2 separate regions of the Homo sapiens genome follow, and region 2 is linked to region 1. The links come from fine-mapping of genetic effects on gene expression. A gene starts in region 1. The other region holds a variant in brackets. All regions are shown on one strand. Distances are from middle to middle. Region 1 holds the start of LIG1 (DNA ligase 1). Region 2 overlaps LIG1 (DNA ligase 1).

Evidence for each region. PIP is the estimated chance that this variant, and not a neighbour inherited with it, causes the effect.
Region 2: its variant is fine-mapped to the expression of LIG1 in whole blood (TOPMed, PIP above 0.99).

What each region holds. Positions count from the first base shown.
Region 1 is chr19:48,167,812-48,173,180 of GRCh38, reverse strand. LIG1 (DNA ligase 1) reads left to right here and starts at 2,837. Exons shown (of 28, transcript NM_000234.3): 1 at 2,837-2,940. It overlaps ZSWIM9 (zinc finger SWIM-type containing 9), which reads right to left and starts at 2,501. Exons shown (of 4, transcript NM_199341.4): 1 at 2,467-2,501; 2 at 1,104-1,387. The coding sequence starts at 1,378. RefSeq lists silencers at 2,309-2,448, 3,249-3,298, 3,329-3,398 and an enhancer at 2,696-3,355.
Region 2 is chr19:48,135,465-48,140,833 of GRCh38, reverse strand. LIG1 (DNA ligase 1) reads left to right here. Exons shown (of 28, transcript NM_000234.3): 12 at 691-863; 13 at 3,146-3,312; 14 at 3,750-3,826; 15 at 4,709-4,800; 16 at 5,055-5,154. Among named protein-coding and RNA genes, the nearest start is that of LIG1-AS1, 7.7 kb to the left of the region's middle. The variant G/A (reference allele first, on the strand shown) is at 2,772.

The DNA.
Region 1 (5,369 bases):
CTTTTAACGTCAATCTTTCTGTCCAGTCAGAAAGTACCAGAAGGGCAGGGATTTTTGTCTCTTGCCCAACTCCATCGCTCCAACTAGAATATCCCCAGCCCACAGCATGGGACCTGGCCCCTTATTCACTGAATAGATGGATCCTTTTCTTTATCCTGCGGCTTCTCTGCAGTTCAGTCTCCCAGTCTCTGTCTCCCAGTCTTTGTCACGTGTACAAAACCTGGCTCTTCTGTTTCCCTGGCTGTCTCTGGTGTCTCTGCCTCCATGTCTCCATGTTTCTGGAATTTTCCGTGACTATTTTCTCCTCTTGGGGTGTGTGTGTTTTACGCTCTGCCTCTCGAAGTCTCTATTACATTCTGTAAGTCAGGCCGGGCACAGTGGCTCGCGGCTGTAATCCCAGCACTTTGGGAGGCAAGACGGGCAGATCACCTGAGGTCATGAGTTTGAGACCAGCCTGGCCAACATGGTGAAACCCCATCTCTACAAAAATCCAAAAATTGGCCAGGCGTGGTGGCGCGTGCCTGTAATCCCAGCTACTCAGGAGGTTGAGGCAGGAGAAACAACGCTTGAACTCGGGAGGTGGAGGTTGCAGTGAGCCGAGATTGTGCCATTGCACTCCAGCCTGAGTGACAGAGCAAGACTCTGTCTCAAAAAAACAACACAAAGCAAAACAAAACAAAAACAAAAACAAAAAACCACACAAAAATTAGCCGGGCATGATGGCAGGTGCCTGTAGTCCTAGCTACTCGGGAGGCTGAGGCGGGAGAATCACTTGAACCTAGGAGGTGGAGGCTGCAGATGGCACCACTGCACTCAAGCCTGGGCGACAGAGCGAGACTCCATCTCGAAAAAAAAAAAAAAGTCTGTAAGTCGGGCCCACACCATCTCTTGCTCCGTGAGTATCTTTGTCTCTCTAGCTCCTCTTCTTCTCTCAGTACATGTCCCTCCTTGACTCCCGCCTCTCTGCAAGGTGTATTTGGCTGCCTCAGTTGGCCTCTCCCCCTCTGCATCTCTGGGTGGGGTGTTCTCTGCCCGTCTCCCACCCACACCCACCCCCGGTGCTCCCCTTCCCCCCAGCAGGACAGCGGCTCAGGTTCACGCACCCCACGGCGGGCCGGCTGGGCGCACGCACGTCCTTGCACACAAGCCGCACGTAGCTGTACTTGAGCACGTCGATGAGCGTGTAGAGCGGGGGCGCACTGGCCCAGCGGCAGCGCGCCAGGTGCATGGAGCTCTTGACGAAGAAGAGCGCCAGCCGCTGCTGGCACCACGCGTCGAAGAAGCGGCTGAACTCGGCCCACGAGAAGAAGGCCCGCTCCCGCAGCTCCTGCTCCTCCTGCCCCGCAGCCGTGCCGGGTGGGGGCTCCGGCCGCTCCATCCTGGGGGCCTGCGTGGAGGAGGGGAGAACAGGTGGATATCAGACCCATTCCCACCCGGGGTATCTCATCTACTCCATTCTTGGCCTGCCCCGTCGGTTGCTGGTGCCTCTATCGAGGTGGGTAGCCCGGGGTCGGACGTGCCTGTTTTTCTCCAAATATATAAATATCAACCTCCATCCTATCTTTGGCCTCCTCCCACCGCCTTATCCCTGGTTCACTTGGAGCCTGTCATCTTGATTCCTAATTCCAACTCGTCTCCTCCTCCGCAGATGTGACCCTTAGGTACAGTTGGAATCTCTCCTCCCAAAATACGACCCTTAAGCTCAGATGTCCCTTAAGGACATCTCCTCAAATGTGTTCTCAAATTCCAGCTAAAACCTCCTCCCCTTCCAGCTGTGTCTCTCACCCAAGAGTAACTTCTAACTCTCGTATTCATCTGGAACTCCTCCTTCCATGTGCCAACAGTTGGCTGTAACCCCTCCAAAGACGCTCCATCTCCAGATGTGCTCCCACATCCAGGCCACGGACCCCTCACCCGGTCACATGCTTCATGCACCTGTGGCTCCGCACTCCCCAGATGTGCCTCTGGCGTGCAGCTGTTGCCCCTTCCCCCGATTATGACCCTATGGCTCGCCACATGCAGCTGTAGCTGGGGCTTCCCTGAGACACTCTCATCTCCAGATGTACTCCCCACATGCAGTTATCCACGCTTCGCCTACAGGTGTGTGCCCCACTTGTGGCTAGTTCTCCTCGGAAGTGTCACCAGTATTCACCTGTGGTCCCCTCCTCCTCAGATGCGGCCCCCAGTCCAGCTGTGGGCCCCTCCTCCCAGTTACATCCACCATCCCCCGCAATATGCATCTTCGTTCTAGACATGGCCCCTCGTCCTCGGATGGGCTCCTTCACCCCAGATGCTCCCCCCACGTCCAGCTGCGCGTCTCCCCTCGAGCAGCCCCATCCAGCCCGCTCCCGACCCTCCTACTCCCCCCCTCCCCGCCCGCTGCGGCACCTTCCAGCCCCGCCGTCCCACCTAGCTGTGCCTCTCCCCTCCCCAAGATGTGCACCCTTCCCGCCCCTCCCCACTCACCTACCCGCCCCGGAGCGGCGTCCACCTCCCACAATGCCCCGCGCCCAGGCCTGGCCCGGCCCTTGCTCCCGGGATGCCCCGCGCGGTCTCCCGCCTCTCTTCCCGCCGTGCCTCGCGGGGGCGCTTCCACCGATTCCTCCTCTTTCCCTGCCAGTCACTCCTCAGACCCTCAGCCACACCCGCTCATCCAGGGCGAGGGAAAGCGCGGGCATTTTCCCAGTGTGCTCTGCGGGAGGGCTCGCCCCACTTCACCCCTTTTCCCGCCCTCCTCCCATTCGGGAGACTACGACTCCCAGTGTCCTCCGCGCGACGGCGGCGGTGCGGACGGTGCCCAGGTCCCGCCCCTAGGCTCTGCCCCGCCCCCGCCCGCAGACGTCTGCGCGCGAATGCCGTGGCGCGAACTTGGGACTGCAGAGGCGCGCCTGGCGGATCTGAGTGTGTTGCCCGGGCAGCGGCGCGCGGGACCAACGCAAGGCAAGTGGGGCCGTCCGCAAGCAGATGGGAGGCGGAGGGCGGCGGGTGCGCCGAATGCTTGGGGCCTATGCTTCGCCATGTCGGGGTGTCTGCAGAGGAGTGGGCGTGGGGACGCTGAGGCTGCCGAGAGCGCGGTGGAGACGGAAGAGCGCGGGCTGCGGGCCGCCGGAGAGTGCAGAGAGGTGTCTCCCAGAGGGAGGGGGGCCAGGTAGAGGGTAGACGAGAGACAGAGACAGTTGGACAGGTCCTCTGAGAAGAGGCCTTGAGGTGCGAGTTCACCTGGAAAGGGGAGAGGCCAAATGGAACTGAGGGGCGGGGCCGGGGGGGGGAAAACTGTGTGGGCGGGGCCAGCTGGAAATCGGAAGGCCCCCCGAGGGGGCGGGGCTATCTGGGAGGGGGAGGGGCTGAAGGGAGCTAAGGGGCGGGGCCGGGGAAAAGATTGCGTGTGGGCGGGGCCACCTGGAAGGGGGAGGTGCCAAGGGTGGGGCTGGCTGGGAACCGGAAGTGCTGAGGGGGCGGGGGCCACCTGGAAGTGCTGAGGGGGCGGGGCTAGAAGAAGGTAAATCGCGGGCAGCAGCATCACCTGGAAGGAGTGGGCCCTACTGGAGGGAGATGGGTGGTGTCAGGGAGAGGTCAGTGGTAAGGTCCAGGTCTAGGTAAAGGGCTCGTAAAAGATGGAGAATCATCTGAATGGGGAGACGTCTGGCCTAATGTATGCTTGATAAAGGGATGGAGCTTACCTCTTGTTTTTACTTTTTATTTTGAAATAATTATAGATTCAAGGAAGTTGTGAAAAGAGTATATCCATCTTCCCCTAATGGTGACATCTTATGTAGTCCCAATATCGAAACCAGGAAATTGACATCAATACAGTTCTGTTAACTAGATTACAGACCTTGTTCAGTTTTCACCAGTTTGTGTGGTGTGAGTGTGATTGTGCATCTGTGTGCCCGTGCAGCTTGATTCCTTGTATAGATTTGTGTAACCCCCATCGTAATTGTGATATAGAACAGTTCCCTCTCCACATAAGAACTCCTCCCCAGGCCCCTGGCAACCGCTAATGTGTTCACCATCTCTAGTTTTGTCATTCGGAGATTGTTATGTAAATGGAATCATATATTATTAGGATGTTACCTTTTTTCTACTCTGCACAATGCCCTGGAGGTCCACCCAAGTTGTTGCTTGTATCAGTGCTTCGTTTCTTTTTATTACTGAGTACTGTTTCATCCTTACTTGATATTTTTCCTGTCATTATCTCTTCATTTTGGTAACCGCTTTATTGAGATATAATTCACAATTATACAGTTTGCCCATTTAAAGTGTACAATTTTGCCCATTTAAAATGTACAAGTCAGCGGTTTTCAGTGTATTTAAAGTGTATTTCAGTGTATTTAAAGTGCCCATTTAAAGTGTACAAGTCAGTGGTTTTCAGTGTATGCGCTGAGTTGTGCAGTTATTACCATAATCGATTTTAGGATATTTTTATCATCCCCCCAAAAAACTCCTATACCTTTTATCCATCATTCATTTAATTTTAACCCTGAACAATATTCTACCATATGGTATTCCAGTAATGAGGGAACCAGTTCCCTAAGGGTAGACATTCCACCAGTTTCCAGTCTTCTCTCATTACAGTTAGTGCTGCAGCAGGTAACTTTGTGCCTCACTTGGTCCACCTGTGAGGGTCTCTGTGGGCCAAATACACAGAAGTGGGGTTGCCGTTCCGATAGAGACGCCAGGTGGTCCTCCAGAGGCATCAACCAGTTTGTTCCCCCCAACTCAGCAGTACACAGAGTTGAGAAGCCAGCCTTGAGTACCGTGGTAAGGAGAAAGGAACGTGGGCTTTGGAGCCAGCCACACCGGGTTTTGAAGCCTTGCCTGAACCCCAGCTATGTTCCTCTGTCCTCATTACCTTCATCTATAAAGTGGGGATGATCTCACCTGTCTTGGAGGGCTGACTTGAGGATTGAGGGTATTTGAGAATGTGATCAGCCTGTCAGGCATAGAGTAGGCTTCCCAGTAAACGCTTATGTATTTCTCCTTCCCTTGCAACTCAGTCTGGTGGTTAAGAGGTGAGCTGTGGAGCAGGCCGACCTGGGGTGGAACGTACTATAGATGCAGGTTAAGTTCCTTTGAAAACCCCTCTGTGCCTTAGTTTCTGTAACAGAGTTGTTGTGGAGAGTCAGTATAATTGAGAATGTCAAGTACCTAGGCAGTTGAGCACTCAGGAGGGATCGTAATAGTTTTCTCCTTTGCCCTCAGGATTTTGGTGGCTAAGTCCCTAACCTGCTTTCTGTGTGAACTGTTTGGTTGAAGCATTGCTTACTTCCTGCTCCCCAACTGGCCCTGAGAAACTCTGTTTGGAAATTGCTGAGTTTCTTTTTTGTTTGTTTTTTTTTTTTTTTTTTTTTTTTTAAGACGGGGTCTCG
Region 2 (5,369 bases), 32 kb after region 1:
GGCTTGGTAAGTGGGGAGTGCTGATTGGTCAGGTTGAAGATGGACTCACAGGGGGTCGAAGGGAGGTTTTCTTGCTGTCTTCTGTTCCTGGGTGGGATGGCAGAACTTGTTGAGCCAGATTACAGTCTGGGTGGCGTCAGACTGAGTGCAGGGTCTGCAAACTATCTTAAGCACTCATCTTAGGTTTTACAGTAGTGATGTTATCCCCAGGAGCAATCGGGGAAGCCAGAGGCTGCGTGACCCCTAAACCTAAATTTCTAATCTTGTAGCTAATTTGTGAGTCTTGCGAAGGCAGGTCCTTAGGCAAAAAGGGGTCTTTTCCAGAAAGGGCTATTACCAATTTCGTTTCAGAGTCAAGCCACGAACCAAATTCCTTCCCAAAGTTAGTTCTGCCTATGCCCAGGACTGAACAAGGACAGCTTAAAGGTTAGAAGCAAGATGGAATCGGTTAGGTGTGATTTCTTTCCACTGTCATAATTTCCTCAGTTACGGTTTTGCAAAGGCGGTTTCACCTCCAGCAATCTGTGATTGTCCTCATGGCTCCAGGCCCCAGAGCCTGGGACTGTTCTGAGCCCTTTCCTCTTCTTTCTCCATTTCTTTCTAGTGTCCACCCCCTTAAACCCACCCCACCCCGACACCACACTTTGACCTTGAGGAACCACGTGTTCATACCCCCGTCCCCTCCTCCAGGCTCCGGATGGTGGAGACGCTGAGCAACTTGCTGCGCTCCGTGGTGGCCCTGTCGCCTCCAGACCTCCTCCCTGTCCTCTACCTCAGCCTCAACCACCTTGGGCCACCCCAGCAGGGCCTGGAGCTTGGCGTGGGTGATGGTGTCCTTCTCAAGGCAGTGGCCCAGGCCACAGGTAAGGGGGACTGTGGTTGGAGGGACCAGAAGGACAGGAGCTCAGCCAGAGAAAATGCAGAGGTCAGGTGGATCGGAGAGATGGTGGAGAGAGGCTGTGAAACAGGGTTGAGGAGAAGGCTGAGAGGGAGGAGAGCCTGATGGGGACAGATTTGCAGGGGTGTGGGAGAGAACACAGGGGCAGCAGTTCAGGTGAGGGAGGACCAGGCATGTGCTGGGACAGGGGGTGTGGGGTGCAGGGAAGGGGAGGGCTGGGGAAAGATGCTGGAGGCAGAGACAGCAGGATTTGGGGGCTGAGATGGAAGGTTGGGGCTTAGAGAGGTCTGAAAGGACTTTGACTGGAGGGATTGGAAGGAGTGGGAGGAAAGAACATGGTGTGTGGGGGGCCAGCAGCCTGAAGGGGCCCAGCCGCCAGTGCTGGGTGGAAAGGCTGGTGATGCGGATGGCCCGCCTGCCAAGGGCCTGGAGTGCTCGGTGCTTATCATGAGGACACTGGGGAGCCATGGAAGGATTGTGAGCAGGCAAGGGGCAGCATCCAGGGGGAAGAGGAGCTGGACCCCAGCTGTAGAGAAGAGAGAAGAGGGCAGGAGAGATCTGGCAGACAGTGGATGTCAGGGTGAGGAGGCAGGAGGAATGCCTCCAGGATCTCCCTGGGTGACTGGATGGATGACAAAGCCGTCGGCAGCTTGGGACCCTGGTGAGGGGCAGGCACCTGCAGGGGGCATTAATCACCCCAGCGTGGGGCAGGCATGAGCAACCTCTATCTGTGGGCCCCCAGGGCCATCCAGGAAGTTTGGAAACGGGTCTGAGGCTCACCAGGTCTGGCTCAGAGCCCAGGGTTCGGGCTGGTCAGTGTAGGAGGGATGACCACCCACTGGTGGGTTCTCATCCGCCTGGGGAGAGGATGTGCTGGGAGCACTGGAGCTGGCTTAGGGCCATGGGCACCAACATTTAGGGAAGGCAGGGGTTTCAGGCTTTCATGAGAGGACAGAGGGACTGAGAAAGGTTGACTTGGATCAGGAAAGAGTTACGGGCTTATGGGAGCCAGAGGAGATGAGACTCAAGATTTTCTCACTCATTCACTCAAGATGTGTTTCGGGAGCACTGACGTCATACCAGACCCAGCACACACGGGGTCGGTTAAGAATACTCTGAGCTGCAGGTAACAGAAAACCCAACTACATTGGCTTGGACAAAGAAGGATCTGTTTTTCTCACAAAAGAAGTTGCAGATGCTGGCTTTCCTGCCCAACAATCCATGGCAGCTGGGGCCTCTTCCACTGTCTCATGCCTCCACCCTTGATGGGTCGTGTTCACACTCACACTGCTCTCCGTGCCGCCTTGTGGCCCCCGTGGCTGTCCAAGTCCCGGGTTTGTTGTGAGTTGTTGGCCACTTTGGAGAATCCCGTCCCCTTTGATGTGTGATTCGATAACATCCCATTGGTGAGGCTCACACTGTCGGCTCTCCCATTTGTGGCAGTTTCGCTTCAGGCGCGAGGCCCACCTTCATGTGCTCTGTGCCGCGGCTGAGCATCTGTGGACTGAAACGCGCACTTGTTCGTTCATTACGGATTGCTTTCCCTTTCATTCTTTTCTGTGTTAGGGTTAGGGCGTTATCTCGATAGGTGTAGGCAGGTTATGTTATCTCCACATTTTATTTCAGACCAGAAAAGAGGTGACACACAGTATCTGGTGACAAGGGTGTGTTGGTTCTGATAGGTTGAGAGCTGCTTGTCACAGCTGTCACCGTGACTTGAGGCTCCATCTCCCCAGCTCTTACACCCAGGCGCCCATGGGACCCAGCTCTGGACAGTAAGTGGGGCCAGAGCACATCCCACGTGTGTAAGCTGGTGGCTCCAAAACAAGCCGAAGGGTCTTTGGTCACTGCCAGAGATGTTCATGACCCGCCA[G/A]AGGAAAGGGTCCCTTGGCCTTCTCTGCTCTGTCCACACTCACTTCCCTAGTGACCTTGTCCCGCCTGTGGCTTTAAATCCCATCCGCGCCCTGATGACACCGGCCCAGATGTCTCCCCTGAGTGTGGTCATGCTCGTTCATCCACCGCTTTCCTGGCTCCACGTGCATGTTTGCTGACTTCCTACAGCCAGCGTGGCTGGGGGCACGTTCCCCAAGCCATTTCTACCAAGTGGGTGAGCGTTAGACACAGGGAGGTGCAGGGACTCGCCACAAGCACACACAGCTGGAGAAAATTCATCCAGGCCGCGAGAGAAGGGAGACACGCAGCCACAACTGTCACCCTCGACACCCCCACCCGCGCTCTCCCCTGAAGGTCGGCAGCTGGAGTCCGTCCGGGCTGAGGCAGCCGAGAAAGGCGACGTGGGGCTGGTGGCCGAGAACAGCCGCAGCACCCAGAGGCTCATGCTGCCACCACCTCCGCTCACTGCCTCCGGGGTCTTCAGCAAGTTCCGCGACATCGCCAGGCTCACTGGCAGTGCTGTGAGTGGGGCGGGCCGCTCATCCCGGACCCCAGACATCTTGGGGACCTGAGGCCACGCGTGTGTCAGGAAGGCTTCTGGGTAGACCATCAGCTGGGTCGCATCAGTCCTTCTCATGGGGTGCACAGCTTCCTCTCCTCCTTCCTGCACCCAATCCTAGGGGAGTCTCCTCTTCAGAGTCTAGCAGACCTAATGCCATGGCTGCCACATGACAGGACTCAGTAAATACTTCCTGGATAAAGGGAGAGGGAGGCAAGGAGGAGAGCTAGCTCGTTCTTACTGCCCTAAGAGTGGGCGGCCATGGGAGCTGGGACATGGGGATGGGGTGAGGGAAGGAGGGCAGGTATTCCAAAATGCAGGGCAGCAGCACGGCTGGTGGGGTGGAGGTGTGGTCCCTGCCTTCACCAGGCACTGACGGCTCTTCCCCTGACTCTCCAGTCCACAGCCAAGAAGATAGACATCATCAAAGGCCTCTTTGTGGCCTGCCGCCACTCAGAAGCCCGGTTCATCGCTAGGTAAGCGTGTGGGCCTGTGAGGCTACAGAGGGGGACTGCAGGCTCGGAGGTGAAAGGAGGGAGGGACTGGCAGCTGGAATCATCACAAATGCCCTGACCATCCTTGGATGAGAAAAGCATGAGCAGGAGGCCCAGCCCCTAAAGAGTGGGAAGGGACACCATTTCCTTTCACAGGCCAGCTTCTGTCCCTTGGTAGTGCTGTCTAGAGAAGGCCCCTGGGCCCCTGTGGGTGAAGCATGCTGTGATTGATTGGTGAGGTCTGCCTCGGCTTGGGCGCGGGCCCTGCAGCAGGAAGCCAGGGTTTGTTTGCCATGACAGTGAGAGCAAATCCATTGAGGGCTCACATCATGGAGCATTTCTTGGGAGCCCTGCCCTGTGCCCCGTGCCTTACCTCATCAGTTCCTACCAGCAACTCTGTGAGACTGGTCTTGTTACCCTCACCTCCAGTTTATAGAAGGGGAAATGGAGACATGGGGAGGCAAACTAAGCCACTTGTCTCCTGCCACTGGCTCAAAGCAAGGACCATGCTGGGGTCCTGACCATTACAGTCACCAGGGCGGGCGCCAGGCTCAGTTCTCTCCCTGACTCATCCTCCTCAAGCCTCGCCAACCCCTCAGGGCAGCTGAGATGGGAGGTGCTGGTGCACCTACTTGTGCCCCTCCCCAGTCTATGCTAGTGGGCAGGATCATTACTGCCTGGCTCAGTTTCCTCATCTGTCACATGGGGCTGTGTGATATCTGGGGTCCCTTCCAGGCTCTGAAGATTCTTCTGGTTTTTGAGGAGAGGGTCTACATACATCAAGGTCGAGGAGATCAGAGAAGGGAGGAGGCAAGATTGGGGAGGTGCAGACAAGCCCCCTTCCCTGGCCTGCTCTCTCCCCAGGTCCCTGAGCGGACGGCTGCGCCTTGGGCTGGCAGAGCAGTCGGTGCTGGCTGCCCTCTCCCAGGCAGTGAGCCTCACGCCCCCGGGCCAAGGTGAGCTCCTGTGGCCCGTCTCTGCATCCCTCGCTGGAGTTACCTCAGGCTTCCCCCCTCCTCTTCAGAGGCCCATGCCCGCCCCTTCCCCAGCGGGCCCCTGCCATACCAGGCTCCTCTCTCCTGGGTGGGGGGGAGGGGGCGTCTTGGGCCGCGGCATCTGCATTCCTTGCCATACAGCAAACCACCCACTGCACCCTGGTGTAGCCAAGGATGTGGGTGCCTTCCAAAGCCTCTGGTGGGTCTTTTCTTAGAATTCCCACCAGCCATGGTGGATGCTGGGAAGGGCAAGACAGCAGAGGCCAGAAAGACGTGGCTGGAGGAGCAAGGCATGATCCTGAAGCAGACGTTCTGGTGAGAGCTGGGCAGTGGGTGGAGTTGCCAGGGGCTGTGGGCAGAGTGCCAGGGTGGGGGTGGAGCCAGAGGAGCAGTGGGTGGGGCCAGTGAAGTGACGGACAGGCATCACGAGTGCCGGTCACGGGGTGACTGAGAGCAGAGGTGGTGATCTAGACAAGGCTGGTGCTTGACACAAGGATGGTGACAAAGATCAGGAAGGTGGCAAACAGTGA